Homo sapiens: one gene and its partner. The protein of the gene in region 2 interacts with the protein of the main gene of each other region in a pairwise test. Each region holds a gene or a part of one and is shown on either strand. Other genes may lie near its edges.

The links.
Region 1: the proteins of FAM177A1 (region 2) and PBX3 interact in a two-hybrid assay, tested with the Homo sapiens proteins (one large-scale study listed by BioGRID).

What each region holds. Positions count from the first base shown.
Region 1 is NC_000009.12:125,928,873-125,932,527, forward strand, and holds part of PBX3 (pre-B-cell leukemia transcription factor 3), read left to right. Parts: intron 1-782; coding exon 783-973; intron 974-3,655. UniProt on the Homo sapiens protein: Transcriptional activator that binds the sequence 5'-ATCAATCAA-3'.
Region 2 is NC_000014.9:35,044,717-35,048,471, forward strand, and holds the start of FAM177A1 (protein FAM177A1 isoform 1 precursor), read left to right. Parts: upstream 1-1,555; 5' UTR 1,556-1,747; coding exon 1,748-1,912; intron 1,913-3,755.

The DNA of each region.
Region 1 (3,655 bases), on a different chromosome or scaffold from region 2:
GGCCTGCACTACAGCTAAATTATAATAGGTCATTGGAATGCTTGGCACGCAAGGCCCTTTATGTGCTAATTCAAACCTGAATCCTTTTGCTTCTTTACATATTATCTGTATTCCTATTTGCCATTCTCTGAACTTGCAACATACTGTTATTTCTAGTACCTGGAATTCCTCCTGACTTCCATCTTTATCCACCTTTCAAAGATGCTACCTATTGTTTAAAGCTCAATCCGTGAAGCCTACAGATGAAAATATTCCTTCCTTGGAACTTAATATCTTCCTGTTAGTCTTTGCACTGAATTAGTTTTTTATACATTTTTTCTCACCAAAGGCCAGGCCTGCATCTTGCTCATTTCTGTGTTCCTTATAGCACTGGCAAGAGTTTGAACTTTGTAGTTGTTCAGTAAGCATTTGTTGATTAAATGTAAAACTCCAGAGAAAATAGGTGGTACTTAGTATTAACAATTAACATATATTTTTACTTGTATATGGGAATTGATAGGGAGCATCCTCGAATGGGAAAACATCATTTTGGAACTGGACAGGGGTGGGTGGGAAGAGTAGTTGAATGCTGTCTCCTTGCACGTCTGACCATGCACGGTTTCAGAATTCTTGCTGCCTTAACTACTATTACTACCATTTTACAAGTGTCTTAGTTTTCATTTTACCCTACACACTGTATAATGCTATTGGTGAATGCAAATGAGGTGTAAATTCAGATGAGTGAATGTCTTCGTGTGATAGTAGATAGTTTCCAAAGGAGTGATTTTTTTTTCCCATTACAGGCATGTAATGAATTTACTACACATGTGATGAACCTTCTCCGAGAACAGAGTAGAACACGTCCCATTTCTCCAAAAGAGATTGAAAGAATGGTGGGCATCATCCATCGAAAATTTAGTTCCATTCAGATGCAGCTCAAACAAAGCACTTGTGAAGCAGTTATGATTTTAAGATCAAGGTTCCTTGATGCCAGGTATGTGAAGCCATAAATCTATTGCATGGCTTTCCCCCGTCTGTCACTCCTTGTGTATTATTTTCTGTAAAACTGACCAGTTGGTCTTAGATTCTTTTGGCCATATGAGTCTTTTGTACAATGGACAGGTAATTCAACTCATGGTTCCTGTGCTGTCAAGCTTTCCTGTCTGGGAATGGTAATGTGGGTTAGCTGCCAGTTTAGTGACTCAGGAAATGAATAGGATTAGTGTCTCTGCTAATGACTTTAGGAATATGTAGCCTTTCCATTCTGATGCTAAAAGGTATTTTTAAGGATAGTTTTCTGCATATAACTGTTTTAACAAGGGGTATTTTGTAAGAATTTCTTAATGTTACACGGGTTGTGCATAATATGGGAAAATACTTGGAGATACTGATACTCCTAAGAAGGAAGTGGCATTTCAGTTAATAGCAGTTACCACAAAACTCCAGAATCTGTATTTCCAAATCAAGAAAGAAAGCCTACCATTTTTCCTGTAAGGATGAAAATTTCCCTTTATCTGAAGCTTTCCCCAAGTTTCACAGGAGTTAGGTAATATATTGTATATGGTAATAAATTGTCTACAGTGACCTACTGAGTGACAGAACAGAAGAATTGTCAACGTCATAGTGTACGCTGCCCCTGTAGGGATGCCTCTCGGGGCATTGCTAAAGCTTATGATGAATCTGCAGCTTTGGAAAGAAGTTTCTATTTTGTTTTTCTTTCTTCTCCCATGGAATCTGACAGAGGTGATAATTATCATCCAAATCTCACAGTATTAAAGGAAATAACTAAGATAGCTTCTCAACTGGAAAACAAAGTGTGTGGAGCATTTTCAGTGTTTTTCATTTTAGCTCTTTATTTTCATCTCAGTTCCTGCCCATCCTTTTGTACATGGGCTAGCACAGTACCTACTAGTCTCCCTGTCTCCAGTCCTACTGCCCTCCAGCCCATCCTCCATATCCCTTGTCTGTTTCTATAACATCACCGTGCTACCATGATTGCTTTGCTTGAAAACCACAGTAGCTTTCCAATGCTCGATACATGCATACTTCACATATACACTCCTTAACCTGACATTTAAGGCCTGTTCCTGTCTGCATTACTTCTTTGTTGTTGTGAAGATTTTATTATTCTTTTTTCTATTTTAAAAATGCCAAGCTCACTATGGAAAGTTTGGAAAATATATGGAATAAAAGGATGAAGGATAAAAGTTAACCTCATTTTTATTACCTAAAGAAAAAATCACTATAAATGTTTTACAATATTCTCTCTCTTTTTGTTTGTTTGGGGGCTTTTTAAAAGAAATATTTCTGTGATGGGTCAATATGCATAATTTGGTCTGCTTTTTAAAAAATTTACCATGAATACATGAACATTTTCATGTAGTATAAGCTCTAATTATTAATAGCATTTTAACAATTGAAGTTACCAAATGGATATAAAATAAATAATGTCCTTAGCATTCCCTTATGCATTCCCTATGCACTCCACCCAGGCTGGAGTGCAGTAAATGATGCTATCATGGCTCACTGCAGCCTCGACATCCCATGCTCGAGTGATCTTCCTGCTTCTGCCTCCCGAGTAGCTGGGAGGCATTTGCCACCATGCTCGGATAATTTTTGTATTTTTTGTAGAGATGGTGTTTCACCATGTTGCCCAGCCTGGTCTTGAACTCCTGAACTCAAGCTATCCTGCCTCCCAAAGTGCTGGGATTATAGGCAGGAGCCACCATGCCCAGCCAACTATTAATTTTCATATAATTTCTTCCTTTCTTCCTTCCTTCCACAAATATTTATTGGTACTGAGGATATATTGGTAAACAAGACAGATTAATATACTTGCCCCAATTGAGCTTATATTCTACTTGAGGAAACAGACAGTAAACAGGTGAACAAATATACCATAACATTCTATTTAATAATGTAATTAAATGTAATAGGGTGATAAGTGGTATGCAGAAAAATAAAGCAAGTCAAGGGGAGAGAAAATGGAGAGGGTACTATTTTAGATAGATTTTTATTTAAACTAACATTTTAATGAAAATCTTCATTGATTGAACCTTTTTGGTCTTTAGGATTATTTCCTAAGGATCAATTCTTAGAAATGGAATTATTAGATCTGAGTTTGAACATTTTCAGTGTTCTTATTTATATATCACTAAATTGTTCTTTCCTGTGTTTCTTCCAAAATGAAATGCTTCATGGAATTATGTTTCTACTGCTTAGAATTCCTTCTTTTCCTAAGTCTAACCACTTACTTCCCTGGCTCCCACAACAAACTGTCTCTCTAAGCTGGTTACCAGTAATGAGTCATCATCTGTGAGGGTATCTGGAATGGAGCCCGGAATGGAACCAGTGCTTGTACTTGTTGGATCTAGTGAGATCTTGCTCATCGTTCCGGATCTGGTCTAAATGCTCGCTTTTCAGAAAATCCACCTTAATCACCCTGCTGGACTAGCCCTTCCTTCCCTTGAACACTTATACTATGTTTACGCAACTATTCAGACTGAAAGTCATGTAGGCTCCTTTTTCTTGTAGTTTTTCATGAACATTTCTTCTCTCCCTTAGTAAGCCACAGTGTCATTGAAAGCAACAGCCAAGACTTACACATTTGCATTCCCCACAATTCTAGCAAATGACTTACATGTTAGAGGCTACCAAAAATAATTTATTGACTGGC
Region 2 (3,755 bases):
TCTCTACTAACAATACAAAAATTAGCCGGGCGTGGTAGTGCACAACTGTAATCCCAGCTACTTGGCAGGCTGAGGTGGGGGAATCGCTTGAACCCGGGAGGCGGATGTTGCAGTGCGCCAAGATTGCGCCATTGCACTCCAGCGTGGGTGAGACCCCATCTCAAAAAAAAAAAAAAAGAAAAAAAAGAAAAAGAAAATTGTAATTTGATATTTAATTGCCACTTTGGAAAATAAAATCATGCATTTATAAATATCCCACAAAGTTTTAGTAATAAAGATTGTTGATTGCCCTGCTTGCCAGTAAGAAGGAAGAGATTTTGAATACATATAATGCAGAACTGTGTTGTTTATGAATGCCAATTCATGAAGTCTTAACAATTGGTTCTTTATTTTTGTTTTCAATTTATGGCCGAGTTTGGTTTTGCTGTTTTGGACTGTCTCAACTCCCTGCTGATGCCACCATACAGAGTCAGATCAGGTACTAACTTGTTTACTTCAGCAGCAACCTAACTTGATTTTATTACCAGGATAGAGAGCAATATGGATTTCCAACTAGTTTTTAAGGCGTAGATGGTTTTCAAATGATTATTTGTTTTTTAAAGTTTTTGGTTTTGTTTTTAGGTTCCAGTTATACATAGAATAGGAAGTGTACAATAACATTAGGCAGAGGGTAAGGAGAAGAACTTTGGCACAGAAGAGAAAGGAATATTTAATATTTGGGCCTGCTGTTGCTATGATGAAAAACATTTACAAGGTCATACAACTTTAGGGAGCATTTCTGAATTGAGACTAGTATGAAAATGGAATTTAAAGTATCAAATGAAGCCTCCCATAGCCAAAATAATGTATGTTTTGGTTTTGCCCCCTACATATTTGTGAAAACTTTCATGCTAAAACAACAATATACCATTTACCTGCAGAACCTCAGACTTGTTTGATGTTGAAGTCATGCAGTAATTGCATGATTTTTTACTTTCGTTGAACATTGCGAAAGACGGAAAAAATCTGGGACGCCCCCTCTAACATACGCACACGACTTTAAGACACAGATAAAACATTCCTTACATTTGTCAAGATGGAAGCTTACTACTGCCCTTTGCTCTCCTTCAGGTCTTTTCACTTAACACTTTCTACAGTTATACTTAAGTATTTCAGACAAGAGTAAGCAAATATCACGCCTGGGGTTCTTCTTTCGAGGGTATTTTGGCTGGACTGTCACCCACGTTTGGAATGGAAAGTGCAGCACGAGCCGTACATTTTACATTTTTCAGCAACCACATCCCATCACTAGCCTTTGAAGTACAACGACACAGCTGTCTTCATTTTACAAGTGCAAAAACCGAGGTCCTGCGGGGTGACTGCCCCAGACGCCGCTGGTGACGGGCTGCGCCGAGGTCGAGACGCCAGGCTTCAGGTACACGTACCAGAAATGACGTCACAGGCGGTGCCAGGCGGGGATCCACGAGCTCTGGATGCTTGCTTGGCCGGAAGCGACGCCCCGCAAGGACCCGCCCCGCCCCGCCCCGCCCCGCGCGAGCCGGTAGTTGCGCCTCCCAGACTGCAGTTGGCCAGCTCTCGGGGTGCGGAGCCCGGCGGGCTAGGCGAGGCGCGGGCTGGCCCCGCCCCTCAGGCCGGCGAGTCCCCTTCTCAGAGACTTGGCTAGGCGCGGCGCGAGGCGGGCGCTGGGCGGGTGAGTCCCACTTCCCGACAGCCTGGCTCGGCCAGCGACTGGGCGGGGAGACCAAGGATGGAAGTGGGCTTACCGGCCATTACCCTCTTTCTCACCAGCGCCAGCAGCCCTGTGGTGGCGACGACGATGGACCAGGAGCCAGTGGGCGGTGTGGAACGAGGAGAAGCCGTCGCAGCCTCGGGAGCTGCGGCCGCCGCGGCATTCGGGGAATCTGCAGGGCAGGTAGGTGGGGCCGCCGAGGCTGACGTCCGGGGAGCCGAGCCGCCTCCTTGCCTTCTCCGCGGGCCGCTCTTTTAGCCTGCGCGGCCGTCCTCCGAGCAGGCCGCCCCAGCTTTGGAGTTCCTCCTCACTGCACCCCTGTTTCTGCTCACTGAGACCAGCTTGTGGGAAGGAGCGCCCCCCGCCTCACTCACCAACCCCTTGGCTGGCAGCACAGCAGACTCTGGGGCGGCCTCGGGTTCCTGGGGTGATAGTCCAGCTTCTGGTCTACCAGAGGAAGAAGAAAGGCGTGTCCCCCAAAGGCTGTCCTTGCAGTAGCTGGAAGCCAGGTGAGGGCGGCTTCAACCACTTCTCAGTCTCTTCTGGTGCGAGCGCCTGCCTGGGCATCTGCCCTTTGCTTGGCATATGCCAAACGTTTACCAGCTTTAATTCACTGGATCCTTACAGTAACCGCTCGAGGTGGGTGTTAGCCCCATTTCACCGCCGAGGCAACTAAGGCTCCGAGCTGCGCTGTCCAACATAAATAGAATGCAAGCTGCATTGAAAATTGTAATTTAAAATTTTCCAGTAGGCACGTTTTAAAAAAGTGAAACCGATATTAATTTTAATAGCATATCTTATTTAACCTAATTTATCAAAACAATTTCAACCTAAAATTACTATGAAAGTTATTAATGAAGTATTTGCATTCTCTTTTGGAGTCTTTTCTAAGTCTTTTAAATCCTGGGTGCATTTTACACGCATAGCATATCGCAGTTCTGGCTGACCACATTTCAAGTGCGCATTAGCCACATGTGGCTAGTGGTTACTGTATTGGACAGCGCTGGTTTAGAGAGTTAACGTTTCTTGCAACTTTTCAGTATTAGACAAAAAGACACTTTGGGAGGCCAAGGCGGGTGGATCACCTGAGGTCAGGAGTTCAAGACCAGTCTGGCCAACATGGTGAAACCCCTTCTCTACTAAAAATACAAAAATTAGCTGGGCGTGGTGGCGCTCGCCTGTAGTCCCAGCTACTCGGGAGGCTGAGGCAGGAGAATTGCTTGAACCCTGGAGGTGGAGGTTGCAGTGAGCCGAGATCACGCCACTGCACTCCAGGCTGGAGACAGAGCGAGACTCCGTCTCAAAACAGCAACAACAACAACAACAACAACAACAACAAAAAAAAAACCCTTGAGTTGCTCATGTATGTAACTCTTCCCATCCTCCATGAGAATGAAGCTTTTTCAGTAGCTTCATTTTTGAGACTAAGTACCTGAATGTTAGTAAGACATTTCCCCCAAACTGTGAGTATATCTCTGTGTATCTCTTATAGTATAAGATGTCGTTTGCATTAACAAAAGCTTATCCAGCCTGGGCAACAGAGCAAGAACCCATCTCTTAAATAAAAAACTAAAGAAACCCCAAAAACAAAAAACACAACTTTCCCACATACCAAACTCTATATGGAATACGTTTTTTCCCTCCTACTTAAGAAGGGGATTCAGGGGACAACATGAATTGATAAGGAAGCCACGTCATTTTCAGTTGAGTTGAGACCTATTGTTGGCAAGTGCACTTACACTTAACCTTTGAGTCCATGGTGCTTGATATGTTTTTCAATTTGATTTTTCCTGTTGTTACTAGAATTGTTTTTTTAAAATCACTACCTCCGCCCTGGATCTAATAGCAAAGTAAACACACGTGTACTTATATACCAGCTAAATGTTGTTTGAAGTGAGAGGCTCTTTGATTGGGGTTAGTGATATTCTGTTGTTTTCACATTCTTGGTTAACAAATAAGTACTTAACCAGTAAAGAAGGCTGTAGAACAAAAGATAAAAATTCACAGGAATACCCCACCACCACCC